Homo sapiens: one gene and its partners. The protein of the gene in region 2 purifies or fractionates together with the protein of the main gene of each other region. This does not show direct contact. Each region holds a gene or a part of one and is shown on either strand. Other genes may lie near its edges.

Evidence for each region.
Region 1: the proteins of SMPD3 (region 2) and TMEM135 purify together in Homo sapiens (affinity purification with mass spectrometry; 2 studies listed by BioGRID and IntAct, with this or other methods). This does not show direct contact.
Region 3: the proteins of SMPD3 (region 2) and ENDOD1 purify together in Homo sapiens (affinity purification with mass spectrometry; 2 studies listed by BioGRID and IntAct, with this or other methods). This does not show direct contact.
Region 4: the proteins of SMPD3 (region 2) and PPP3R1 purify together in Homo sapiens (affinity purification with mass spectrometry; 2 studies listed by BioGRID and IntAct, with this or other methods). This does not show direct contact.

Annotation. Positions count from the first base shown.
Region 1 is NC_000011.10:87,306,934-87,313,960, forward strand, and holds part of TMEM135 (transmembrane protein 135), read left to right. Parts: intron 1-2,571; coding exon 2,572-2,739; intron 2,740-6,491; coding exon 6,492-6,555; intron 6,556-7,027.
Region 2 is NC_000016.10:68,445,499-68,452,503, forward strand, and holds the start of SMPD3 (sphingomyelin phosphodiesterase 3), read right to left. Parts: upstream 3,011-7,005; 5' UTR 2,855-3,010; intron 1-2,854. UniProt on the Homo sapiens protein: Catalyzes the hydrolysis of sphingomyelin to form ceramide and phosphocholine. Ceramide mediates numerous cellular functions, such as apoptosis and growth arrest, and is capable of regulating these 2 cellular events independently.
Region 3 is NC_000011.10:95,092,825-95,099,851, forward strand, and holds part of ENDOD1 (endonuclease domain-containing 1 protein precursor), read left to right. Parts: intron 1-7,027. UniProt on the Homo sapiens protein: May act as a DNase and a RNase. Plays a role in the modulation of innate immune signaling through the cGAS-STING pathway by interacting with RNF26.
Region 4 is NC_000002.12:68,249,532-68,256,749, forward strand, and holds the start of PPP3R1 (calcineurin subunit B type 1), read right to left. Parts: upstream 3,002-7,218; 5' UTR 2,597-3,001; coding exon 2,594-2,596; intron 2,204-2,593; exon of another isoform or gene 2,072-2,203; intron 1-2,071. UniProt on the Homo sapiens protein: Regulatory subunit of calcineurin, a calcium-dependent, calmodulin stimulated protein phosphatase. Confers calcium sensitivity.

The DNA of each region.
Region 1 (7,027 bases), on a different chromosome or scaffold from region 2:
TGGTCTTGAACTCTTGACCTTAGGGGATCTGCCTGCCTTGACCTCCCAACACTAGGATTACAGGTGTGAACCACCGCGCCCGGCCAAGTTCCTTTATTTTGAATGGTGCTCTAACAGTTCCAATGCTGTAGAAAGTTTATGTTCTTCTTGCAATTTTAGTCTCTACTCAGTTGATGATGAGAAGAACAGAGTTGTGCAGCACCCCAAAAGACAGCCCCTTGGTGGTTACTCTAGAAAGGAGGAACTGTCCCACATTAGTGCTCATGAAGGTAAACATCTATGGCCCAGTGTTGACAGTGCCGTTAGCCCAGCCCACACTTAGCTTCACAATTCCCCAAAATGACCAAGGATAAAATAGTAGGGTTTTGTTTTGTTTTGTTCCTCAGTTGTGCAATACTTTCTGACACTCTTTCCAAATTTGATTTCCTGCCTCAGTTTAAAGTGGCCAAAAAAAAAAAAAAAGTAACATTGCTGGCAGTCCAAGTCAGCTGATAACCTGGATTTATTATTCCTTCCAACTGAACATGATTGTAGTTCAAAGGAAAACTTTAGATGGGGAACTAAGAGGAGTATTTGGATTAAATCAGAGGTATTTGAGAAATTTGGCGTGGGGAAGGTGATATTAAAAAAATTGTATGAGAAAGTTAGTGAGAATTTCCAAGCAATAAAAAACTAGTGATTCTTTCAAATGTGTACCAGTACTGTAAACTTGGCAATTTATGTATACATTGGAATGCCGTATTATATCCATGAATGTAAAACTATTGGAGACCTGTGGGTGAGGAATTTAAACCATAAACATGGTAGTGAAATTTTTTGACAATGGACCTCATTATTTTACAAACTTAATTACACCATATGTTAAATCACATCCCTGAATAAATACTCATATTAATTACATTGTCCTCAACATTCTGTACTCCATTCACACTAACTTTTTCTTGGTTCCTTATACCTGCCAGCCTCTTAATTGGCTTTATGTTTTCTGTCTGAGCTGTCTGAAATGTTTTTCTCATTCTAGCTTCTTCTCTTTTGGGTCTATTTAAATGTCATATCATTTACATGTCTGCCCTTAACATTTAATCTAATATAGATTGCCCTGTTAATGTCTATCCTAGTGTCTTGATTACTTCCTTCCTAACATTTATTATAATCTTTTGTATTTGTTTACTTAGTTGTTTTCTTTTCCAGTAATGAGCATGAAAGCTCCACAAAGGCAAGAACTCTGTGCCCTCCTCATCACTGTTATCCCCAGCATCTAGTGTAATGTTTGGCAGATAACAGGCATTCAGCAAATATTTTCTAAGTACATTAATGGGTGGATGAATAGTTCTCTTGAAAATAGCATGAAAAAGATTGTAATGTAATTATAATCCCTAAATCCTTAGATTATAAGGTTATCAATGGCAAGATGAAAGTGTGACCATTTCATTCATTTAAATACTAGGCAATTTCAGTTAAGCAAATGCTTGAGAATTCACAGTAATTGATTGGACAATTTGATTTTGTGTTTTAATAAGGCATTAGGTAGTTTCAGGTAAATTAACCAGTGTTTCCTCATAGTAATTAATTTTTTTTTCTGGAAAAGAAAGCTGCAGTCCAGAAAATACAAACCTAACTTTTGGGCATACACTGCTATGAGTGTAGATATTTTCCAATTCCAGTCAGAGTTAGAGAGGAGGAGGATGGGACACCGGTTTTAACAATGTATTGGTTGAACTGTACAGAAAGTACTATTCTTTTTGTTAATGTTTTATGCTGATTGAAATTTTTCAGTTTCAATATTAATTACTTACAGTCTCTCAGACATCTAAAATTCATCTTCCTAAATACAGAAATGAAATTGACCAGTAATAGTCATCCTCTCCAAATCTCTTTTGCACTATGGACAGTTGAAGGAAATATAGAGAAATGTTGACAGCAAATATGGATTTGTAGTGGGTTTGCTTTTTCAAGTTTAGTTTAATATACTTTAAAGCTACTCCTCCCTAGAGATGTTTTAGCCCGACAGGAATGAAAACCTAGACATAATTCTGCACCCCCTGCCCCCTGGAAGTTCTTCTTACCTGACCATTGTAAAAGTTAGCACCAAAGGTCTGAAAAAATAATGAAAATATTTTTCTATGAAAATAATCCCTACTCATGCTAATCATTAAGAGCAGTTTTCTGTTAACATTTTCAAGAGCATTTGGTTTTATTAAGTAGTTTTTGGAATTTTAGTGCTTTTGTATGTAAAACTCATTTGTGGTTTAGGAATTTAAAATCCTGATTATTGTCAACAAAATGTCAAGAAATGGAATTTTGGTGCATAGGCAAGCTTGGCCAGTGCTTGTGAGACTTTTTAAGTCTTTGTAAATCAAAGAAAGTAAACTCATTCCAAGATTTCACTCTTATTTTTAAGGTAATTGTTTTAAAATTATTGTTTGAGGTTTTAAGGCTTTATTTTGCTGTGCTATAAACTTAGATTAAATTTGTTTTGTCTTGTTTCTATTTTGAGATGGTAAAATTCGTATTCTATCAAAAACTTCAAAATTTGTTTGTAAATCAGGTTTTTCTCCAAATTTCCTCTAGGGTTTCATCAGAATGTTTAGCGTGGGGTACTTGATCCAGTGCTGCCTCCGAATCCCTTCTGCATTTAGGCATCTGTTTACACAGCCATCTCGGCTACTTTCTCTCTTCTACAATAAAGAAAACTTCCAGCTTGGAGCTTTTCTTGGCTCTTTTGTTAGTATATACAAGGTAAGGCTTTTAGAAGAGGAAAGAAAAATGGGAAATAAATAACATTGCTATTGTTAGAATGAGAGATGGCCTTAGTTCACTTATTTTTTAATGCTTCTTTCTGGAATATTCATACATATCTTGACATAACCAAATCTATACAATATATTGGGAAGTGAGGGTACAGAAATTTCTTCTTTTAAAATATTATTTAATATACTCGAGTGTGTAGACATGTTTGCATTTACATATGGTATTACACATTGTCAGACTCATTTTCTTTTTCAATATATAGACACTCAGAAAATATGAATTTTTTGGATATTTCCAATATCAAAAATGATATTAATATGCCTGGCTTATTTATTTTTTTATCATATTTACTGCCTGGTTATTAATTTAAATGTATTTCAGATCTTTCTAGCTGAAATAAACACTTGATAGAATCGGTGAGGATTTTCTATTGTAACTTATATAAGCAATGACTTAGGTCCCTTCTTCCACCCACTCACAGTTCCTACTACACTGTCTCAAATAACCAGAGTTCACAGTCTTCCACCCCATTCTGTATGTTCCTATAAAAGTGTCCATACATATATAAGCCCACGCCTAAACATATATGTAGAGATCATTCTTAACCTAGTACTCTGCAACTTTAAGTGATGGCCTTTTGCATAATGGAATCACTAATATGTAAATCATATTTTATTAAACGCTTAAAAGATTCTAAATCTGAATATAATCTCTAAATGGTAAAGTGTGTTAATTAATGTTGACCTAACACATGGACATAAAGATGACAACAGAAGTCACTGGGGGCTTCTAGAGGAGGGAGGGAGGGAGCAGGGCAAGGATTGAAAAACTAGTGCCTGGGTATTGGGATCAATCATACCCCAAACCTCTGCACCACACAATATACCCCTGTAACAAACCTGCATATGTATCCCCCGAATCTAAAAAAAAAGTTGCAATTAAAAAAAAAAAAAAAGGAGATTAGAACATATACACACACAGAGGAATGACCATGTGAGGACACAGGGAGAAGGTGGCCATCTGCTAGCCATGGAGAGAGAAGGAGCGAACCTTGAGCATACCGTGATCTTTGAACTCCCAGCCTCTATGACTGTGAAAAAAATAGATTTTTTTTTAATCTACAATCACAAATTGCTCACTTTTGCCTTAATTTTACTCTATAAAAGATATGTGTTTTGAGCACAGGGATTGTGTCTCATTTTGTAGGAACATGCAGCAGGCATTCCAATATGTCTGACTAATGAATTAAGGACATTAAAGGAGTGTGCATTTTTGTAGATGAGATTTGCCTACCTTCCCTCTGTCTACAAAAAAATTATAAATATATATTTTATTCATACTTTATTTCTTTGACTGTTTTAATGTATATTTTAATAAATATATTGAAAGAAGAATATATATTCTGTGGGTATATATATATGTCTATATATATATATATACGTACACATATACACACTTTTTGTTGTTAAATGCAGAGAAAATTAATGATGGGAAAACTCAATTCTGGAATTATTTAGGGTAACATGGACAGTGTTGTTTTCTGTAAAAATTTACTCATAAAAGGTAGGTATGGATAAAATATTTTGAAATGGAAAGGAGGAATAATAAACTATAGATAATGAATCACTTGTTATGAAATATTACTAATATTAAAAACATTTTCAATATGGTTTGACTAAGAAGCATTACTAATGTATTTGAATATACAAGAGTTAAGGACAGATTATTGGTAATTGCATGTTTATATTCACATTTAAAAAAATTTCTCACGTTATAGCATTTGTATTTATTCTTAACATAAACTCTTAACTGTTTACATGTGGTTTATCACCAACATTTTTAGCCCCAGGTTGGTTATTCTCTGCCATCTAGCTTATCTCAGAGTGTGTTTTGTTTTGCTTTTTTATTTTTCATTTCTGTTACTATTTATTTACTTAGGTAATACAAACAAATGGTATTAAAGTAACAAAAATACAACCGGGTCAGAAAATCTCAGGAAATATTCACGTGGTGTGTTCAAAAATTGTATGTGATTTTTCAAAAACAAATTGCCCATGCTATAGTATCTTTATAAGAATCTTAAGAGAAGAGCAGGCAAATAAACCTTGTTTTTTCTGTTTCTTGGTTAACTGACCCTTTTTTAAAAATTTGTTAAGGTTCCTCTTTATCTCTGGTAATATTCATTGTTTTATAGTCTATGTTTAATATTAATATAGCTACTTCAACTTTTCAAAATTATTGTTTGATGTTATAATGTTTCCATTCTTTCACTTTTTCTGTCTTTGTTTGAAAAACTGGTTTCTTTTAGGCTGCAGAGAGTTGGCCCTTTCTTTCTTATAGAATCTGATCATCTCTGTCTTCTAATTGGCATGTTTATACTGTTTACATATAATGTATTATGTGTAAATATATATAGTTTATGATGTGATTGAGTTTAAACCTACTTTCATGTTAGTTTTTTTGTATTTGTTCCTTTTTTTCTTCCTCTTTTTTTTTTTTTCTTTTTCAGCCTTCTGGATTGATTGTGTATTTTACTATGGCTCCATTCTAGCTTCACTATTGCCTTATTATTTGTACTTGCTTTAATTTAGTGGCTGCCTTAACATTTTATAATATACATTTTTAATGTATCAGCCAATCTTCAAGTAATGTTATACTACTTCACATACAGTGTCAGACCTTACAACACTGTACTTTGAATTTCTCCTTCCCATCCTTTGTTATAGGATTTAACATTTATCGTTTATCTTTATATATGTTATATACTCCACGATATGTTGTTACTATTTTTGTTTTAGATCAGAGGTCAACACACTTTTTCTGTGAAGAGCCAGATCATGACTATTAGGCTTTGTGACCATATGGTCTCTGTCATAACTACCCAGCTCTGCTGTTACAGTCTGAAAGCAGCTATAGACAATATATAAATGAACAAGTGTGGCTGCGTTTCAATAAAACTTTATCACACTATAATTAGAACTTGATGTAATTTTCACATCATAAGATGTTGTCATTCTTTTGATTTATTTTTCATTTTTTAAGACTGTAAAAATGATTATTAGCTCCTGAGCCATATAAAAACAAGTAGCAGGCCAGATTTGGCTAGTGAGCCATAGTTTGCTGACCCCTATTTTAGATAGTTAATTCACTTTTAGTGCAAGTAAAGATAAGAAAAATATGTCTTCTAAGTTTACCTTCACTTTTCTATTTCCAGAACTCTGCATTTCTTTTCATAGTTCTAAATTTTTGTCTGGTGTCATATTCCTTCTACCTTTAACATTTCTGTGAACTCAGATCTGCTGGTGGTGGATTTTCTCAGCTTTTATCTGTCTGGAAAAAATCTTTGTTTCACCTTCAGTTTTAAGAAATATTTTCTCTGGGTATAGAATTGTGGCCTGACAGACTTGTAGTTTAGCCAGCTTTTTGTTCTTGTTAAAATGGGAGTGATGCTTTTCCCAGCATTCGATAGCTAGGCAAAAGTGAAATTTATGGATTTATTTTGCAAAATCAGTGCAATAAAAATATTATGTGTAATTTCTTAATAGAGTCTATAGAGTAATAACTTTATAAAATATTATTGTTCATAATTTTTCCAATCATGTATGCAGTTTGATTTAGATGAGATCACTAATTGGCCTGCAAGGTAATCTGATGAATTTATTCATTATAGTTGTTTTTGTTTTATGCTTTTATTTCTAGAAATAAAATAACTGAAGTCATTGTATTTTCTCCTTAACTAGGGTACTAGTTGCTTCCTGCGCTGGATCAGAAACTTAGATGATGAACTACATGCTATTATAGCTGGTAAAGCAATAATAAAAATGAATGGTTATTATTGTATTAATCAGTGGTAGGAATGAATTGGAAATACCATCCAATTCATCCAATTTCTATGAATCTTCCTTTCTCTATCGTAATAGAATTCCAGTTGAGGCACTTGTCCAAATACTTTGTGATGTTTAACATATCAAGGCACTGTTGCCATCTGATGTTTTGAGTTGGCAATATAATGGCTTGGGTATCTGTCCTGCTATAGGCCATAAATCCTAGCGAATGTGTCACAAAAGAATATAAAAAGCCTTATATTTATATTTGCCATATAAGTGATTAAGGGAAGTTCAAGTAGATTTCATTGAAAATTCTATTTTTACCACTGGAAAGTGACCTATATTTTCATAATAACTTTTTAAAGGAACTTAATCATTTTATTAAAAAATCTAAATATTATTTTCTATAAGTGCAATGTATGTATTAAATTAAATAGATAATTTATCAG
Region 2 (7,005 bases):
TCAACTCAACACTCTGAAGGTAGGAGGGAGCCCCCCAATAGAAAGATTTGTGATTTTACCTGACAATGCTCACACTCACTCTGAGCCTCTACACCATGGGGGAGTGTTAGTTGCCAAATTGTGACTGGTTTAACCTCTTTCCAGCAGAGGTCGCTGTGGACACTGGGAGTGGATACTTGTGGGAACTGGATCAGGCAGCCTGGGCTAGATAGATGGTGGCTACATTGTGTAGTACTTGCTCTTTCTGTTGTTCTCCTGGCCATCATCTGGTCTCTCATCCTATGGGAAGTAGATCTCTGTGAAGATTATCTCAAAGCTGCACAGTACCTTTGCTATGCAAGTGCTGTGAAATCAGGGTCACTTATTGGGGAGGGCAGGTCTGGGAGGGGCATGCTTATCCTCTAGGGGTATCACCTTGTAGTGTATGTCTGTGTTACCCTTGTTTCCTCTCTGAGGAAACAGTATTTCTGAGACACCTAGTATTTCTGAGACACTGCCTGTGACTGACCAGCAACGTCAGCGCCATGCCCTTCCAGACATGGAGGCCAAAGTGACAAAAGTTGCCTTGCAACGTAGTCCTGCACCCACATCATAAGTGACTCTGTTGATGAGTCCCCTGCCAAGCCTCACTTGGAAACACATGGTGGTGGTGAGGGGGCAGAATTCTGGTCTTTGGAGCAGCCTATTACAGTAGGATAAAGCTTCTGATAAAATGGGAAGGGCAGGGCACTGGTGAGTATGTCAGGGTCAGACCTGAGACCTCAGAAGGGCTGAAGAAGGCTCCACATAGTTGTGAATTCCCCACTTACTGGGCCTTTCGCAGGCCAGGCAGGCTAGGCACAAAGCAACCTGAAGCTACCTTCACCCTGAGGGCATCCACTCGGACCCTAGGTCATTGCTGTGGCTTGAGAGTTAAAGATGTGACTACCCTGCTCCCCACCCCCACAACATCCAAGCCCATCAGTAAATGAGTAAGTGGTTCATCTACACACACACACACACACACACACACACACACACACAGCCCGAAGCGCAAGCTCTGGCCGTGCCACACACATGAAGACTGAAACACACATGGGTACATTCATCTAGTCACACACATTCACACCCACACTCTGACCCACACCATCATCCATGCAAACCCTCACACACTTAAACACATCCCCTCCCCAGAACCAAATTTGACCTAACATGGCTGATGGGGCGTGGGAGGGTCCAGTCAGGATGTCCCTCTGGACCCTGGCCCACTCACGCCCTGTGAACTCCAGGCCCCTTGCTCAAGGTGGAGCCCCCACCTGTCCCTGTCCTAGTGGTCACAGGTCCTGAACACCCCCACTCTCGGCCCCCGAAGGGGCCCTGGTCACCATCGCGTGCACAGAATCCTGGGTGCCTGGCTGGCCTTAGGGTAGGGGGTATGGGAAAAGGGAAAGATGTGGGGGCATAGTGCCCTGCCCTGGCTCAGCCGCCTCCTCCCTCGGGATTTTCCATCCCGGCTCGCGCGGGCCCGCTAGAAGCCGGTGCGCTTTGTCTCCCGCCCCGCTCCTGGCACGTTTCCGTGGAAGCTGCCCGCGCCGCGCCCGAAGCCCCCCCTCCGCGGCCGCGCCCCCCGCCCAGCCCGCGGCGCAGGCCTGCCAGTGCGGCGACCGCCGCTTTGTCCTCTCGAGGATGCCTGGGCCGAGCGCGAAAGCCCCATGCCTTGGAACAGCCACCGCGCGTCCTGGAAGCAGGTCCCCGAGCCTCGGTTTGGGGTGCGCCCTGCATCGGAGCGGAGCAGCCCCCAAAGATTCGCGGGCACGAGGTTGGGGGTAGCGTCTACCTGGAGCTCTTGAGTGCTTGAGGGGAGACCCGCCCCGTCCCGCTCTGTACATGCCCATCTGGGATTGGCCCCCAGCTGCGGTGCCAGAGGCTCGGTCCCCGGGGCGTGGTGGGCTAGGGCGGGTCGTCTCGACTTAGAGCCCCAGGCCTGGATCCAGGTAGGGAGGGCCTGGGAGATAAGGCCCAGGTGGGGAGAGGTGGGGAGGGGTCCCTCCTGTCCTCGTACATCCCCCTACACTACCTCTCACACCCAGGCCACCCAACCCTCGGCGCGGGCCCGAGCGCGGGGGATTCCGAGTGTCAGTGCTTTCCTCCACCCGCGACTCCGAGAAGGATGGGGAGGGGTCTCCCAGCGTTTCCCTGCCACATTCCAATTCCACCCTTCACCAGTAACCTAGGAGGGTCCAAGTGGGAGGGGTAAGAGTCCTCTGTCTCTTCCACATCCTCGATCCTCCTCTTTACAAAACCCTAGGGCCAAGGGAGGAGGGGGGAATAGGGAGGGGGGCGAGTGTGGAGGAAGGGGCCTGGGCAAGGGTCTTCCCTGCATCCCAAGCAGCCCTTCCTGAATACCCCTGGGAGGGTCTGGGCTAGGGGAGCGGTCCGCGATCTCATCCATCACCACCAGACTCCTTTGTAACCTCGAGCAGCCGAAGTGTTGCGGGGAGGGGTCCCCCTGCCTCGAGTCCCTTCATCCCACAACACCTCATCCTCCCGTCCTGAGTAATCCGAGCAGCCCCGTCGCCAGGCACAGCGGGAGGGAGGGTCCAAGCCTCCTCGCTCTCCCAGGAGAGATGGGGGGTGGGGGTGACCCCCAGCCCTCGCCCCTCATACCCAAGAGCCTTCTCCATGATAAAACGAAAACTAACCCAAGCTGCTCCGACCTCCGGCGCCCGGCCACGGGAGGCCCCTAGTCAGTCGGCGGCTGTCCGGGACCCGCGGTCCTGAGAGCAACGAGAACACGTCCCGTCAACTCCCCAGCCCCTCACGCCTCGGTTCGCCCGCTCCCCAAGAAAACAAAAGCGAATTCAGCAGCACTGACCTCTGACGGCGGGCGGGAGGGCGGTCAGCGCCCGGCAGCGCACCCCGCTCCTCCCGGCTCCTCACAGCCCGGGCTCCCGGCCGCAGATCTGGCGGCGGCCGCAGCGGCGGCGGCTCTCGCGGCTCTCGGGTCCGGAGCCTCCCTCAGACTCAGCACCTGGAGCGGCGAACAGCTCCGCGCTTCATTCCTCTGACCCCGCCTCCCTCGCGCCGCCGGAGCCAATGGTGACCCGGACCCCGCCCAGGAGTCTGCCCATTGGGGGCGTCCTCCCCTCTCCCTCCGGCCCCGCCCGCAGGTTCCTGGGTCTCTCCTTCAAGACCACATCCCCCAGAGACCGGCGGAGTTTCGCACAGCCTTCTGGGACTTATAGTTCTTTAAGGACGCGGAGTGGGCTCACGCCGCGGGTAGGCAAACAGAGCGGGACTGCATTTCCCAGAGTGCACTGAAGACACGGAGGCGCGGAGCAGGGCGGGAGGACCGTTTCCATAGCAAAGACGACCAGCCGAGGATGGCTGGCGGAGGCGTGGGGCAGGCCGCAGGACCCTCGAAGGATCGTGTGAGACCCCGGGCAGCCTCTTGGGAGGCCATTTCGAGGAGAAAACCTTGATTTCTGCCTCAGGACCCTGGGCCTCAGTTTTCCTATCTGAGAAGAAGGGCGAAGAGCTGTGCCCCCGACCACACCCGTCGGTGATGGGGCAAACCGAGGGCAAGCAGGTTTGGTTCCTGCCCAGCAAAGGTGAGGGAGGACGGAGGAGACTCTCCCACCGCATTCAGAACTTTATTCCTTTATTTTTGTCTCAATCTTGTCATAGAGGAGCGCTTCACTTTTGGTCATCCCTTGGGCCACCAGGGCCTTCCCGTCTCCGTCTTCCCATCGCAGGTCCTGGCCTCCTTCACACCACTCCAGGATACCGCAGCATCTCCCCCAGCGCAGCAGACGGAGGGCGCTTCACATGCCCCCGGACCTAAGCCCACTCTCCCCTTCAAGATCTGGACTCCACTTTTTTGCAACACTCTTAACTTCTTTGGAAGCTGGGAAGCCTCCTACTCCCTTGGGCCTCTCCACCCTGCCCTCAGCTAACTCGTCGGCAAGCCCCAGCCTAGACATTGCCTGTTTTGTGAAGACATCTAGATGCTGGGCTGTCTGTTGAGTGCCCCACCCTGTGTTTGAGCAGCACCCTCTACTTCCCCTGTTCTACTTGCATGTTTATGTGCTCGTCTTCCTCATTATAAGATCCACAGGGGAGGGGCCATGTCTATATTATTCATACTTACAGTCCAGTGTCTAGTATCTGGCACGTAGTAGGCACTCACTAGCTATTGAGATATAAATATAGATATTTGTTGAATTGAAAATGAATTGGGCCGGGCGTGGTGGCTCACGCCTGTAATCCCAGAACTTTGGGAGGCCGAGGCAGGTGGATCACTAGGTCAGGAGTTCGAGACAAGTCTGACCAAAATGGTGAAACCCAGTCTCTACTAAAAATACAAAAATTAGCTGGGCGTGGTGGCACGTGCCTGTAATCCCAGCTATTCAGGAGGCTGAGGCGGGAGAATCGCTTGAACCCCGGGAGGTGGAGGTTGCAGTGAGTCGAGATTGCACCACTACACTCCAGCCTGGACAACAGAGTGAGACCCTGTCTCAAAAAAAAAAAAAAAAAAAGAGAAAAAGAATAAAATTAAAAAAAAGAAAATAAAGGAACCTCATTCACATACACCTCCAAAACTCTGATTTCCTAAAGTTGGGCATTTCTCATTGCTGGAGGTGTTCAGTTAGAGGCATGCCGCCCCCTTGAAGAAATGTTTATTTCATTTGTACAGTGGGTTGGGATTTTACCTGAATGCTTTGAGTACCCTTTTAATCCTATGATGCTAGAGATTGATAGACCCATGCCTATTATTCCTGTCAGTTCTCCCTGAAATGTCATCAGTTCTTCATGTTCCGCTATTTCTAGCTGTTGGCCCTACTCGTTTCTGTGCCTAAATGCCCTACCTCCCACTCCTTTTCTGAGAAAGATCTTCTGCCCTGTCAGTTATGAAGTAAAGATGTCCTAAGATTCCTGCTCTTTCTTTTTTCTTTCTTTCTTTCTCTCTCTTTTTTTTTTTTTTCGACGGAGTTTCGCTCTTGTTGCCTGGAGTGCAATGGCTGGAGTGCAATGGCGCGATCTCAGCTCACTGCAGCCTCTGCCACCTAGGCCCACCTTGGTCTCCCCAAGTGCTGGCATTACAGGTGTGAGCCACTGTGCCCGGCCTCCTGCTCTTCTTTCAACCCTCTGCTCAGCATCTTAGGCCTCATTGGTGATGTCCCACCTTGCTAGGTAGCATCTTTCCTGAATATTTCTCCACTAAACATTCTGATGTTGGCTAGATGGCCTAGTTAATCTACACATTTCATTTTATCACCTTCTCCAGATGTTTTTTTGTGTATGTCAGCTGATACACTCTGGGGAGAATGCCTTAATATATGGGAATAATTAACTCATGGCCAAGAAGGAAATAACCAAGGGGACTTTTACTCTGGACCTAATTCAAACCAAAGAGACAGAGCCTGAGAGAAAGCAGCTCTGTCATCCTTGAGTTAGTAACATCCAGGAAGGGAAGGCTAGGGTGGGGGAGTGAGTAAAACAGATGGCATTTAGGGAAGAACCAACAGGACTTTAAGAGGCATGGCAGAGGGGCTTTGATCCTGGCTAAACCATCAGGGAAGGCAATTGGAGCTGGGTGAACAGATGGGGTCTTATTACTGAAGAGAAAACGGTAAGGAGGCAGGGGGAAATGGGACGTGTGCTAAAGCAGAGTGCCTCATTCAGTGGATGCAGTGAGAGCAGAGGCTGTTGGAAAAGTGGATCAGGGAGGACCATGCCACCAGGTGGGCATCAGCAGAGTATCACCCGAGTATTGCAGAGGGATACCAAATAAGTCCACCTGAAGCCAGAGCTGAAACCCTGTGGAGGTCCGTTTACCCCTTCAGAAGTAGTGTACCACCATCCATCTACCACTGGAATCCAATTTCAGTTTTGGCAAATTGTTATAAATAGGAAAAAGTCAGGGTTCCACAATTCTGGCAGCACCCAGAGACTATAACAGCATCTGCACAGCCAAGTAGAGTTAGGAAACCTGGATCCTAATCCTGACTTTGCCTCTGATTAGATGTGTGATCCTGGGCTGGAGCTGTTTTTTCAGTTGTAAAATGCTGTTTATTGGTGTTAGGTAGCAGCTAATAAGGCTGGAGGTGGGGCTGGGTGTAGTGGCTCACACATGTAATCTCAGCAGTTTGACAGGCCAAGGCAGGAGGATTGCTGGAGGCCAGGGATTTGAGACCAGCTTGGGCTACATAGTGAGACTCTGCCTGTACTAAAAATTAAAAAAAAAAAAAATAACTCAGTGCAGTGGCGCATGCCTGTAGTCCCAGCTACTCAGGAGGTTGGGGTGGGAGGGTTGCTTGAGCCCAGGAGTTTGAGGCTGCAGTGAACTATGATCAATCACACCACTGCATTCTAGTAGCCTGAGTGACAGAGCAAGACCTGTCTCTAAAAAAAAAGAAATTTTTTTTAAGGGTGGAGGTAGGGAAATTCAAAGCTACTTACTAGCTGTGTGACCTTGCCTAAACTACCTCCTTGGATTTGCAGTCTGTTTATTTGAAAATGTCATAAGGGATAAATGAGATTCCTTATGTAAAGTACTTTATAAATATTAAGCACTTACCAAATGTTAGTCTGTTTTCACATTATTCTTCTTGGATTACCAGAAATTGGTTTGACCATGAATAAACAGGAGATAATTTCTTGGGTAATCTGAGTTTGAATCCCCTTTCTCTCTCTTACTAATTGTATGACTTTGATTAGGTTATTTAATATTTAATTGTTCTGGGTCTCAGTTTTCTCATTTGTGAAATTAAAATGTGTTCTTCAGAATTGTGAGGGTTAAATGTGATAAAAGGCCTGACTCATATGAGAAAATGCTCAATATATTTGTTTTGTCATTTTTAAGGGGTGGTTTTAGGGCACAGAACCCTAAAGGAATGAATGGAATTCTAAATACTTCGAAGCTAGAGTAGTGAAAGATTCCAGGGGAACACAGTGCTGGCCTTCTCCCTTCTTCTTGGGGAAGAAAAGATCTCAGTGAAGTTCCATGGGTCTTCTCAGTAAGTA
Region 3 (7,027 bases), on a different chromosome or scaffold from region 2:
GCTCAGGGCTCAATGTGTACCCTTGGCGGCTTCCAAGCATTTTATAATGCTGAGTCTCCTTGTACCCACATCACCTTTTTATGAGGTCAGTGTTACCAAGAGGACCCGCACACAGGGGAGGAAGAGGCAGGAGACCAAAGGAACTCAGTGCTTGCCTCCAGTGATGAGTCAGGCAGGGCAGCAGTGACACTGAATTCCCAAAGCCCAGTTCGGCAGCTTTTGAGTCCACACTGCAGTTTCCCTTTGAAAAGAATCTCCTAAGTCAAAGATCACAGAAACTTAGTCACTCTTGTGCTGAAAATCTGTAAAGTGTTGCCTGCCCAGCCCCTACAGGACAAAGTTCACACTGCAGAATGCAGTTTACAGGCTCTCCATAGCCTAGCTCCTGTCTCCAGCTCCAATCTAGTTTCTCACCATGCTCCACCCTCATATTTTATGTTCTAGCATTATCCAGCTGCCTGGAGTTCCTCTCATAAACCAGACTGTTTGTGATGTCTGTTTCTTAGCTCATGCTGATTCCCTTTGCCCAAATTCCCTTTCTACACAGACCCCATCTTATCCTTCACTTCCTGCCCTTACTCCATCCTTTAAGACTCTGCTGAGGTGTCACCTCCTCCAGAAAGAATTCCCCACCTGAACTGTATCCACCTCCCAAGTTAGGTTCACCCCTTCAGTGCTCTTATAGTTTTTCTATTTTCATACTTACCATGTTGTTTTGTAATTATCTGCTTATGTATCTGTCTCCCCAACTTGAGCCCTTGAGGAATGATGATTGCATCTTACTCATTCTTTTCCTAGTGCCCAGCTTATAGAAAGCACGCGATAAGTGTTGAATAAAATAATTTGATGTTGGGAGGATCAATCAGGCAGGAGCAGGTGAGATGTTCTGCTTCAGTTTTCTCAGTGGGGCGCTTCCTGTTTCAGAAGCTTGCACCAGGGCTGGCCAGCAGCAACTGTTACAAACATGCTCCCTATGCAGAGCTGGAACCCTGCTCTGCAGCCACTCCATCAGTCTTAGCTTTGGCCTTTGAAACTATCCCAAATGATTTTGATCTCTGCTCTGCCTACAGGAGATGGTTTGGAGGAGTTCTAGTCAAGACTCCAGAAACCTGAGAACTGGATTCTGGTTTAGTGCAGGAAGCCTCAAACCTTTTAGTTTGTTGACTCCTTTCCACTTAATGGAAGAATTTTTAGATAAGATGCCAATGATACCTTTCTAAAGTGCATTGCTGATTTATGCCAGAAGCCAACATATAAAGCTCTATCATTTTATAAACATGGAAGGAACTGAATATATAAATTATATAATTAATATATTATACATATTAATTATATAATATATAATTTATATATTCAGTAACAATAGTGTATATTTGTTCAATCTTAAAAAATACTGTGAGGTAGATATTATCTTCATTGTAGAAAGGAGGAAACTGGCTAAGGGAGGTTAACTGAGGTGTTTTAGGGTCACACAGCTTATTTTTGAACTCATTACTGATTACTCTTCTGATACACTGTGGAGATTCTTTGATCTCACAATGGATCCACTGCGCTAATGGTCTTAGGACTCTAATTTTCATCTTTTATGTGAGAATTCTAATTTCTACTCCACTTCTATTTTCTGACAGTCATAGGACAAGTGGGAGCACTTACTTGGCTGCATAAAGGTTGCTCAAGTGTCACTTTACTCTGGAATGAAGGGGATATTCTGGTTAACTGCAAAAACATTTTCCTGGAGGGCACAGTGAGGTCTTACTTCAGATCTTAGTAAATGCAAATGGTTGTTTCAAGTTAGAACCTTGATTAAGTCCTTGATTTTTAATTTCCATCCATGGCTTATACAACCTGAAACAGAAATACTGTTCAATTTGTTCCAACCTCAGCCTTCTTTTCATTGTGTCAGAGAACAGATATATAGAGCATCATACACTTAAATCTCTGTGTAAGGAATGCAGTGAACAGGACAATCCTGATTCTTACTCCTTAATTAAGAGACTTAATTCAGATCCCTGCTCTTCCATTTACAAGCTATGTGACTTCCAGCCCCATTTTTTGGATCTGTTCATTAAAGGTTGTAAAAGTGTTTATAGAGAGGTTGTGACAAATAAACAAGATAACACATGAGAGCATGTGGCATGGTACCTGGAATATGGTAAACTCTTAGTAAATATTAATATGTATATAAGGTGTTACTTCAGTAGGTGCTAGGCGTGTGCACGCACACACACACACACACACACACACACAAATGGAATGTTGGATTAGATAGGTGACATCTACAATTCTGCAAATCTCTCCTAAAAAGTAAAATATCTATCCATGTATCTTCTCAAATGCTTGGTGTATGTCCCACATTCATACAGTAGCTGCTTCATAAATGCATGATGAGAGATGAAATGTGTGGAAGATTGAATGAATGGATGGAGGGTGGATTTGAGTGATTAAAAGCAAAAACAAACCAAACAGGTACCAAAGACATCTCCACCCTCTCTGTCCTGGAAAACCAAGAAGTGTGTTGTCAGAAAACAGTGAGCAATGGCATTCCAGTCTATTGTGCTGAGACTGGATAAGACTGGGAAGTGCCTGACCCAGGGGATGGTTCCAACCTTTGTTGAATTTTTCCCTTCTGGCTTTTTCTTCATCTTTGGATTTAGTGTTTCCTTTTGTTTTGCAGGCCATTCTCAGGATCAAGTTAAGGTATTTACCTGCGTTGGCAGAATATTTCAGGGACATCTGTCCTGAAGCAGTCCAGTGGTGACAATTCCCTATACTATTCTTTCAGTTTAGACTTATATCTGGACAATCTAGGCAAGGAACTATCATTTATTGATCCCTTACCATGTCAAAGGTCTTCACATTCTAACTCATCTCATCTCTATAACAACTCTAGGTATTATGACTTGTGTTTTATAGTTTAGGAAACTGAGGTTCGGAGTAGTTAAGTAACTTATCCAAGGTCAAACAGCTTCTAGATGGCAAAACCTGGACAGGAGTTTATGACTGCCCAAATCCAAAGCTCTTAACTCTCTTTATTCTCTATCACACTATTTTCTAACTAAAATGTTAGTTTTTTCTCTCCAGAATCCAAACTGGCTGACTAGACTTGTTATTTTATTTTTAATCCAGTTCTTTGGATGGTTTATGGTTTCACTACTAACATACCATTCTGTATGTAAATGCCAGCTTCAGATTTCTTTTAGCTCCGTTACTGGTGATTCATGGTGATTGAATGGAGCTTTCCTTAGGGAATTGAGATTTTATTCTTTGGGCATAAAATTTCTCTTCCTTTTAAACTCTCATCTCTGAAAGTGAAAATTTTAGAAAGTAAATCCTCTTATTTGCCAGTAGCATTTGTTTTCAGTTATCTGGTCTATCTTCTAGAATTACTGTTAGTCAAGAAAGCTTTTTTTTTTTTTTTTTTTTTTTTTCAAATTTCCTCCTTCAAGATGCATGTTATATCTTCTGAATGGTGACTTACCCTTTCATTTTCATGAAACTTAACATCTGTCATAGTAATAATTCATTGCCTGTCGATATATCTATTTGGCCACTGAAAGGAAGGAGAAATGAAAAAGAAACTGACTCATAGGCTGAACCAAGAATAGAAGCACCGTTTAATATTCCAGTCATGCTTCATTGACCTAGTGCTGAACAGAAGTGTGGCTCAATCAAAAGGTCAAACAGAGGGTAGTTTATATTTTTAATCAAAGCTGAAAATACGGGTACATTTTACTTTGTAGAATAAACAGATGGCTGAAATATTATTTGAAAATATAAATGTAATTACATGTTTCAGTTGACTTATACTTTAAGGGCTGATTGGTCTTCAGTTTTTATTGACTTCCAGTTGGCAGGGACACCTAATGCTTTAAGAAAGCCCTGAGCCCTCTGTCAATTCATTTTAGTCAACAAATCTTTATTGAGCATCTGCTATGTGTGAGGCACTATTCTAAGTCCTGGAAAGAGAGCAGTGGTTACAGACAAAAATACCTACTCTCATAGGGTTTATATCTAATAGAGAATATAGATTATAAAATAAATAAATAAAAGACAAGGTGCCAAGCATGGTGGCTCATGCCTGTAATCCCACTACTTTGGGAGGCCAAGGCGGTCTGATCATTTGAGCCTAAGAGTTCGAGACCAGCCTGGGCAACATGGCAAAAACCCATCTCTACAAAAATTAGCGAGGAGTGCTGGCATGCACCTGTAGTCCCAACTACTCATGGAGGCTAAGGTGGGAGGATCATTTGGGCCTGGGAGGTAGAGGCTGTGGTGAGCTGAGATCATGCCACTGCACTCCAGTCTGGGGGACAGAGTAAGACCCTGTTTCAAAAAAAAAAAAAAGGCATATTAGACAGTGATAAGTGTTAAGGAGAAAAAGCAAGGAAGGAGGCTATGAGATATCAAGGAAAAGGTGAAGTTTAAAACAAGGTTTCCATCCAGGGAAGAGATCACTGAGGAGTTGACTTTTGGGTATAGACATGAAAGAAGTAAGAAAGCCAATTATGCAGGCATCTATAGAGGGGGAAAACGTTCTGGGTAAAGGGAATGGTAATTGCAAAGGCCTGGAGGCATGAGTGTGTTGAGGAAGAACTAAGAGGCTGGTTTGGCTAGAGAAGAGTAAATGAGAGTAGCAGGAGATGAGGTCAGAGAAGTGGGGAAGGAGACGGCAGATCATTTAGATTCTTCTGAGCTATTTGTAAAATATTGGGGTTTTACTGTGTGTGAAGTGGGAAGCAATTGTGCAGGGTTCTGAGCAGAGAGCTTCGATGTGATCTGGCTTACATTTAAATAGGACCATTTTGGCTGCTGCATTGAGAATAGACATGTGGTGTTAAGGGCAGAAGCAAAGAAACCAGTTAGGAGGTTTCAGTGATCTGACAAGACAGTAGTATCTTGGATCAAGATGATAGCACTGTATATTCTGGATATATTGTGAAGAAAGAGCTCATAGTCTTTGGAGTGAGAGAAAGGGAAGAGATGACTCCAAGGGTTTGGGCCTGAATAATCAGAAGAATGGAGTTGTCATGAATAAGACAAGGATACAAAAGGAGGGGCTGTTTGGGGGCCATATCAAGAACTCGCTTTTGTTCATAAGAGCAAGAATATAATACTGGTTGAGTATCCCTAATCTGAAATGCTTGGGACCAGAAGTGTTTCAGTTTGAAGATTTTTTTTTGGATTTTGGAATTAGTGGCTGAACCTCCCAAATCTGGAAATCTGAAATCTGAAATGCTTTAATGAGCATTTCCTTTGAATGTCATGTCAGTACTCAAAAAGCTTTGGATTTTGGAACATATTGGATTTTGGATTTTCAGATCTGAGATGCTCAACCTATAGTGGCTACCAGGGGCTGAGGGGTGGGGAAGATGAGGAGCTCTTGTTTAATGGGTATAAAGTTTCAGTTACATGGGATAAATCAGTTCTAGAGATCTGCTGTACAATGTAATGCCTATAGTTGATGATATTGTATTGTGCACTTCAAAATTTGTTAAGAGAGTAGATTTCATATTAAGTTTTCTTAATACGCACACAAAACAAACAAAAGGACACAAGGAAAGTATGGGAGGTGTTGGACATGTCTCCCTCCTTGGTTGTTGTGATTGTATCATGGGTATTTGCATACATCCAAACCCAGCACATTAATTATGTGATGGGTTATTACATATTTATTGCACATTTAATTCATCACATTAAATATGTACAATTCTTTGTATATCAGTTATACTTTGATACAGCTGTAGGAGGAAAAGGTACTCCGTTTTGGGCACTCTGAGTGCGAGATACCTTCAGGTATTCAATTGACCTTCAAGTAAGTACAGTCTAGAGCTCATTGGATGCTTATCATATGGCAGGAGGCACTTTTCTAGTGTTTTTTTTTTCACATGTAATTTCATGTAATCCTCAGCATCGTCAGAAATAGGTACTATTATTATCCTTCTTAGAGGAGGAAACAGGCCCAGAGAGGTTAAACTACTATTGCATTTTTACACAGCTAAGAAGAGGTGGGGCTCGGGTTTGAACCTGAGCTGTCTGACACCAGAGCACACATGGACTGCTTCTGTTGCAAACCTGTTGATGTGTTGGGTGAGCTCCTATTGAATGCTCTTGAATGAAGTTTATCTTTTAAAAGTTCACATGTTCATTTACCAGGATTTTATAGAGGGTGTGTTTCTAGCTCTGGCAGTCACACGCCCATGAATATCAGAGGCTCACCACCTCCAGGTGTACCTTTGTGGCTATAGGAAGGGTGGGGTTATTGCAAGTACTCCATTGGGCCGAGGGTGCTCTGCCCCCTTGTACAGTCTTGTTCTATACTGATCCATCTTGAGCTCTTCCTATTATCCTTATGCAAGCAGACATTTTCCATAAGGCACCAGGTTAGAGCTGGGAAAAATGGATCACCCAAAAACTGTGTTAACTCTGTTGAGCAACAGATTTTGTCCCCTGCATCTCAGTGAGTAGCGGAGATAAGAGGGTAGGGGATAGAGTCTTGCATCTCTGGGCGTATGGAGACATTGCTGCCAGACAGGCTGTTGGATTGGATGTGGTGCATGAGCCTGAGGAGAGCCCATCTCCTGTCTCAATGCCAGCTGTCCCTAGGGGTGGGAAGGAGGTGCCCAGGCCGACTACACCCTCCAGAGCTCCGCTCCTTGAGCAGAGGTGGCAGACCCACACATCCATCATCCAGCCCTAGTCTGTTCAGGAGCTCCTTCTCTGCAGCCAGCTTGGCTCCCAGGAAGGAAGACCAGCAGAACACTTAAACTTAATAACCCAGTAATGCAGTAAGTCCTACTTTGGGACAAGAGGAGGGACTTTGCTCTAACTCAGAACGTATACCTCCTTGAACGTGCCAAAATTCCTTTTTCCTTTATGACTGTTTAGTAAGTTAAAGTCCTTCATCTTTGCAGGTTCTTGCATTTGTCCCTATACCGACTTTATCACAGCTTGGTAAATGTGCCTTCCCTCTATGTTTGTGAGATGGCAGCACTGGTTTCAGGAAATCTGCTTGCTGTTATCTTAGTGT
Region 4 (7,218 bases), on a different chromosome or scaffold from region 2:
CATTTAAGTATCCAGAACAAAATCCGTATTATCTATTTCAACAAAAACATATATAAAACACCTCGTTCAGGGGAAATTCCTAGGAGCTCACTATTTACAAGATTTTTTTTTTTAACATATAACCTTCATTCTCCCTGGACGCTTAACAATTTAAAACTCAAATAAGGGTGAAGGGAGGGAAAGACTTTAACTTTCAGGAAAAAAAAAAATAAACTACGTTTAAGGCACCAACTAAAATTAATACCTGTCAGAAAAGATCCTTGAGAGTACATTTAAATCTTATAAGCCTTTTTACTTTCCATACTTGAATTAACTAGTGATATTTCATACTGTAAATGCTGTTGACAGAATGTAAATAATAAGAGTTCTAAGAGAGATTTTCCAAAGGGTGTGAAAGTTTTCAGAATTGTATGTTCAATTAACCAGAAAAATTAACCAGATCACTCCAAAGCCTGATTTATTTGGGTTAATCGACATCCCATATGGCAAAGTTGAGTTATGGGTATGGTCTTGATACTTTCAAACCAGTACTGTATTCAGCAGACCAAAATAACCCTAAAGTTGGAAAGCCACTGCCAACATTATGTAGGTCCTGAAATGGTATTGGGAGGATGAAAGAGGAAAAAAAAAAACCCAACAGTTGAATTAGGAAATAAATACTGAAAAGGGAGCTGGGAAGAAAAGGAACATAATGACCTGGCAGGAAACAACATCGTCTGATACACCGTAAAATATTTTAAAAGACAAGAAAACAGAGTTAACAGGAAAATAAGAAATTGAAGAGCTAAAAGAGAACTTCCCAGTTTCAGTCTGTTGTTCAAAAAACAGAGGACGGGGTGCACCGCAAGAGAGTTACTATTTGGAAACCATACCACTTCGCTGTATAATATATAAACAACAAAAGGCTAGATCATTGTTCCTCAAATGTGCTGTTTATAAAGCTAAGTAAAAACATTCCCTGCAATGAACAAAGATCTTCAAGATCCTGACCTTCAAGTAAAGCATGTGCATAAGGAAATTCTATTAAAGCACTGAAATGCAATTCTTCACTTCAAAAGACTATGCCAACAAAAAGATTATATGATGAATGGCTATGATCTTCCTAAATTGTTTTGTGACTTTCAGGTGCCAAAGTTGCCTCTCTGAGCTGCCTCGCAAGTTGGCAAGGAAAAACTTTCTCTACACATCAAAATCGGCAATCATTTAAGTCTGCTCTTAATCTGGGTTTTAAGTGCACCAGTAAGCACTTACTCATTTGCCCTATATTTTAAATAAAAGCTGACTTACCTGAATATTCTAATTTCACGTTCTTCCCTTAAAATCGATTTCACCAAATCGATTTTAAGTTGTAAGCAACAGCATTCCTCCCTTCAGTAATCCACCACGTACACTGAAGCACTTAAATTCTACATACAGGGTGGGATACCATACAGTGGAAAAGATGCGAGAAATTACCCACCGTCAACCAGTTTAAGTCTTCTGACAACTGTTCAAAGACTTTTAGAGAAAGCCTAATAACTGAATCGCATGATGGAGTATCTGATATACGCGGAATAGCACTCTGAACTTTCTCTACTGTGTATACAACTCTTGATTACAAAGAGGAAACTAACGACTAGGGCTTCCCCGAGCGAGAGAACCGGTAAGGTAACAGGCTAAAAGGGCGTCGTTGATTTCTTGGCTGCAGCGACAGAGGCGGGAGACACACCCCTAGCGTCGGTCTGAAACACTACAGCAGCGAATTCTACCTAGGGATTAATGTGAGGGTAAGGAAAGACAAATTAAAATCGCCATGATTCAAAAACAACCACTCCAAGAGAGAGACACAAGAAGGTACCAAAGAAAATGAAAAAACCCTTGGTAGTAACGGAAGCATGAAAAATTAAGCGCCCCCATTTCTCCCAAACCAAGTTCGCGTATGTTTTCGTGAACAAACACCTTGGATCTTTCCGGTTCGCCAGGGCAGCGAGCAAAGCAGCAGCGAACGGAAACCCCGCAGGGCTGCGCACCGCAGCTAAACCGACGCTCGCAGGAGAGGGGAAGTGAGTGGCAGGGTTCCCTGCCAAGACTCACTGCTGGGAAACAGGCAGTGAGTGGAAGCAGCAGCAGCTCTGGAGAGTAAGTGGGTCTTATGTAAAGTGCCATTTGCCACATATTGTTATTTCCAAAGGATTTCAGAATACCCTCGAACTCGAAAAACAGAGTGAGTGTGGAGGGGAGGGGGGTGCTCCACGTGGAGGAGGGTCGCGAGAAGGAGAGTGCGCCGGGCTGATGGTCAGCGGTGCCCGCGGGGGTCGATGCCGGGCGGGACCGGCGGCGCGGGGGTGGGGCGACGGCGGGGCGGCGGCCGAGCAGCAGAGGGGCGCCCCGCAGAGGCCGGGGGCGGGCGCGGGGGCCCCGCCGCCGTCCTGTCAGCAGCCGCCCCGCCGCCCTCTCCGGCTCGCCCGCAACCGCCGCGGGACCCGCCGGGCCCGGGTCTCTGGAATTTTCCACGGGGGACAGCCGACCGGGGGCGTCGGGGCTCGCCCCCGCACCCGACCCGGACGGCGGCAGTAGGGGGAGGGATGGTGCATCGAGGAAGCCAAGGTCTCACCATTTTGCTCGGCGGGTCGGCGGCTCGCTGGCTCGCTGGCTCGGAGAAGTGTTGCGCTCAGGCTGGCTCGCAGGAAACGGCGGCGGCGGCCCAGCTGCGGCCCTCGGGTCGCCGGCGGGGAGGGGGCGCGCGTGGGGGAGGGGAGGCGGCGCCGCGGGGCCCGCGCCGGCCGGGCGATTGGGCACGCGAGGGAGCGGGCAGGGTAGGGGGAAATAAATTAAGGTCGAGATTCAGAGCCGGAGAGCGCGGGAGGAGCAGCGGCGAGAGGCAGGAGAGGCAGAGAAGAAGAAAGGAGGGGGAGAGGGGGCGAAGACGGCCGGGAAACTCGGGGGCTGCAGCCTCGCGCTCGCGCCGGAGCCGTGACGGACTCACTGCAGCGGCTCGCGCTGACCCGCAACCTCAAGGCACGAAAAAAGGGGAGGGCGGAGAGGGAGGGGAAAGCGGAGTGCTGCAGCGCGCGGGGCGGGGGCGGGGCTTCCGCGAGCGCCGCACATCCGGGAACCTGCGCGCCCCGCTGGGCGGCGAGTGCCGCGGCGCTCTGGCGAGCTCTGGTTGGGGAACGCTGAGCGCGCGGACCACGTTCGCCCCTCAGCCGGCCGCCCCTTGCGTGCAGGGTGGGGGGAGGCCAGGGGCGGGGGCGCGGACGTCGGTGACGTCGCGTGGCGGAGCCCTTCCGGTCATGTGGCTGGAGGCGGGCGGGGAAGAAGGCAAGGCTGGGAGGGGAAGGAGGAAATGCGAGGGTTCCCCGGCGGGAGGAAGCGCGAGGGGTGCGCGAGTGCTAGCGAAAGGGGGACAGGGGCCCTGGAGTGGAAGCCTTGCGGGAGAGGAGGAGCAGAGGAGCAGTCTTAGGGTGTCAGAACCACCCGGATGCCGCACCAAAAAACAGGAAAAATCCAAGTCCTGCGAGAGGCAGTCAAAGGTATCTGTGCATCCGTGTACCGACTTGGATCCACTACAGAATTGCACGGCCCATCAGGACTGCTGTCACCCCGGTGCAGCACCCGCAGGCCCATCTGTAATATGAATTGGCAGAGTCAGGAACCAGGTTGCAAAGACAGAGAAGCGAGCCAAAGCTGGCCGCAGCCCGAGGCGTGGGGAGAACCTGGGCAAACGAGGAGAAGGGATACTTCCCACTCGCAGAAAGACTTTCCACCCAGCTCTGCATTCCCATAAACCGTCCAGACTCCCCTTTGGCGGAGTCCATCAGTTTTTGTTTAAAAAAAGAAAAAAACTCGAATGTAGATTGCCCGCTTATCCTTTTAGTAGAGCTATATCCACTCCTGTGGCAATTATCTTCCCAGAAAATTCAGATTACAATAGGAAATTACATCCAGAAAAGCATAAGGAGGAAATTTATGTTCGAGAGAAGAAATAAAGCTGTCAGGAGAGGTGTGATGAGGATAACGAAGAAAACATTTTGCAACTATTTTAACCAGTTATTCCTTTACAAGCCTTGATAATCGCCCGCACTCGTGTGTGTTTGAGAGTGTGTGTGTGTGTGTGTGTGTGTGTGAGAGAGAGAGAGAGGATGTTTTCTGAGTGATCGGAAACTCCTTATTGATAAAGCCTTTGAGTCATTTTATAAAAAGCCATTGTGTTGTTTTTTTTTAAAAAAGTCTTAATGATCCTTACATGAGAACTTTATTCTTTTTATGTGCTAATTATTTTTCCATATGATGAGCATGCATTTTTTTCTAATAAACGCTCAGCGATTTGCCCTAGGACTAAATGGTTCCTGTCTCTCTTTCTCTCTGTCTTTCTCTCTCTGTCAATCCCCCCCTCCCCGCCCCTCCATCCCTCCCCTTCCCCCTTCAGGAGCTACTTTGCTTCTGTGTCAGGATGAATAAGGAAAAGAACTTAGACATAACAAGCTGTGTCACACAGTGAATGTATCAAGGAAAGGCCAAGAAGGGACACTTTCTTCCACAAGTTTCTTGATTTAAATATGTTGCTATTTGATACTAACATATTACAGAACAAGAAAAAGTCCCTAGGGTATATGTGTAACGTTTTCTAGGTATACTATTTAAAATTAGTTTTTTATCATAAAAAGACGTGCTTTTTAAGAAAAAGTACTGTATGCAAAATTCTTCCTCTCTCCACTTACCAGAGGTAATCATGCTAACTGCATTTGTTTGTGTCCCTTGGACATTTTCAGTGAAAATCAAATTATTTTAACTAAGGGGTATGCACTAAGAAGGAATTCGAGCTATTTGGAATACAGTGGATTTAAAATAACCCATAATTTTGTTGTGTTGGAGGCAATTTATACTAGTCTGAATTCAGTAAGATAAGTAAATCCAAAATGCACCTTTAATAGGTTTTTCATCAAAAGGCTGAGGGGAAAAGTATGGTAAGTAGTCATTCTCCTTTTTGTCTCTTTCCATTAAATTTTGATGTAAAGCTTAGTGTGAGTGGGAACAGGTACCAAACAGTCCTGCAGAAGCATATGTGTTTTTAAAAATGTATGTACCAAATAGCCCTGCTAAAGGCATACATGTTTTTAAATAACTAGATAAATGAAGAGGTAATGGACATATCTTTGTGGCTTATTTTTCCTAGAAAATTTAACAAGCTCTTAGATGATTATCAGAAAGAATTATGTCAGATAAATTGAAGGGAGAAACACTTAAGACAGGGATGCCAGTTACAAGAATTAGTAACAGGTAGGCATGAGGTGATAAGGGATACCAATGGCAGAGGAAAGGAAAGGCGAGTATGAACAACATGAAGCAAAAATGGACTGACTATGCAACATAGTGGATGTGTGGAACAGAGAGGGAGAAATAAAAGGTGACCAGTTTTCGTTTTGATGACAGGAAATAGTGTTAACATTAAGAGAAATGGAGAGGTCCAAAGTTTGGCTATTGAGTGAGAAGAGATGAGTTTAGATTTAAAGATGCAAAGTTTTAGTTGCTGATGAGCTATCCCAGTGGAAGCACCCAAATAGAAGCTGAAAGTGCAGGTTAGAAAGGAATAGAGATATGGGAATCAATTTTAAAAAGGATTAAAATGAAATCTTCAAATTTTTCCTTATTTAATTAGTGATAGGAGAAGGAAAAGACCCAGAAATGATAATAAAGCTGCTAGGTAGAAAATTAAAGGAAAAGAAGGTTTTAAGAAAGAGAGAGTAGACCGGGCAAAGTGGCTCACGCCTGTAATCCCAGCACTTTGGGAGGCCAAGGTGAGTGGATCACCTGAGGTCAGGAGTTCAAGATCAGCCTGGCCAAACTGGTGAGACCCTGTCTTTACGAAAAATACAAAAATTAGCTGGGTGTTTTAGTACGTAGCTGTAATCCCAGCTACTTGGGAGGCTGAGGCAGGAGAATTGCTTGAACCTGGGGGATGGAGGTTGCAGTGAGCCAAGATCGAACCACTATTGCACTCCAGCCTGGGCAGCAGAGCAAGACTCTGTCTCAAAAAAAAAAAAAAAAAGTGGGTAATGTTTACAGTCATGTTTGACCATAGGCAGCCTCAGACTTCTGTGTCTCCACAATTACCATTAGGAAGTTAGAAATGTCACAAGATATTATTTCCTCCGTAGACCTTTAAGATAACAGTGACATCCAGAAAGTTGCCTTACTCTTAAAGGACTGATCACTGCCATTACTTTATATATAATATTTAAGGGTTTCAGGAGAAACAAATTACCATTTCTGTAGTTGTTTAAGGTATTTACAGTATTACTCCCCAAATGGCCACTTTTAGTAATGATTATATTTACTAACATCAACTAGAAACTATGTTTGATTTTTCTACTCTTCTTGTACATAGGAAGAAAATGCCAATCAAAAATGAAAGTCAGTTAAAACCACTTGAAAGCAATGTCTGTTCCTTTTTAGAATGGAAAGTTGGAGGAAACTTCAGCCTCTCCTCTTAGATAAAATGCATGCCCCAGGTTAAGAATTCCAGGTGTAAGAATACTTTGTACCTTTTTGCCACATAGTTCCATACCACAAGATTCCCTTCTCAGTGGACACTGAGGTTGCATAGGGAATAGATCACCTTCCTTCTCAGAATTCTTTTTTGTAATGAGGAGAACGCAGGGATGCAAGCTAGCCCCCTACTCCAGGGTGTGGTTGAGAAAGGGCTCCCAGGCACCTGAGATGCCAAGAGAAGTGGGTCATTCCCTTCCTGCTAAGCAGCAGAGGTTTTTGCCAAGGATCTAAATTCCATCTTGGAAACTCATTTCTCCATAGAAACCATTTCACAAAGAGTTCTATAAACAATGGCCTTCCTGCAAAAAGCCTACTTAAATTACAATGTAGCTGAAATTCTGTGTATTTGCTACTAAAAGTTCAATAGTAGAAAATAATACTCTTAAATATATGTATCTTTTTGAATTAATGCATTTGGGAAAAAATGTATTCCAAGTACTAGATGGGTTTTTTTCTTTAATTGTACATATAATTACTTTTAAAATTATGGACTTTGTATAACTTTTCCAGTTCCCACAAGAGAATTAAGAATATTGAATTTGTTCAAAATTAAGCCTTCTATCACTTACTTTTTAGATGAAATACAAATTAGGACAGTTTTTAAATTAGGAGTTTCCTAATAAAAAAATTATATGATAAATTAGTTACATAAGTTGTTTCCATACTATGCACTGGAACAAAAAGAAA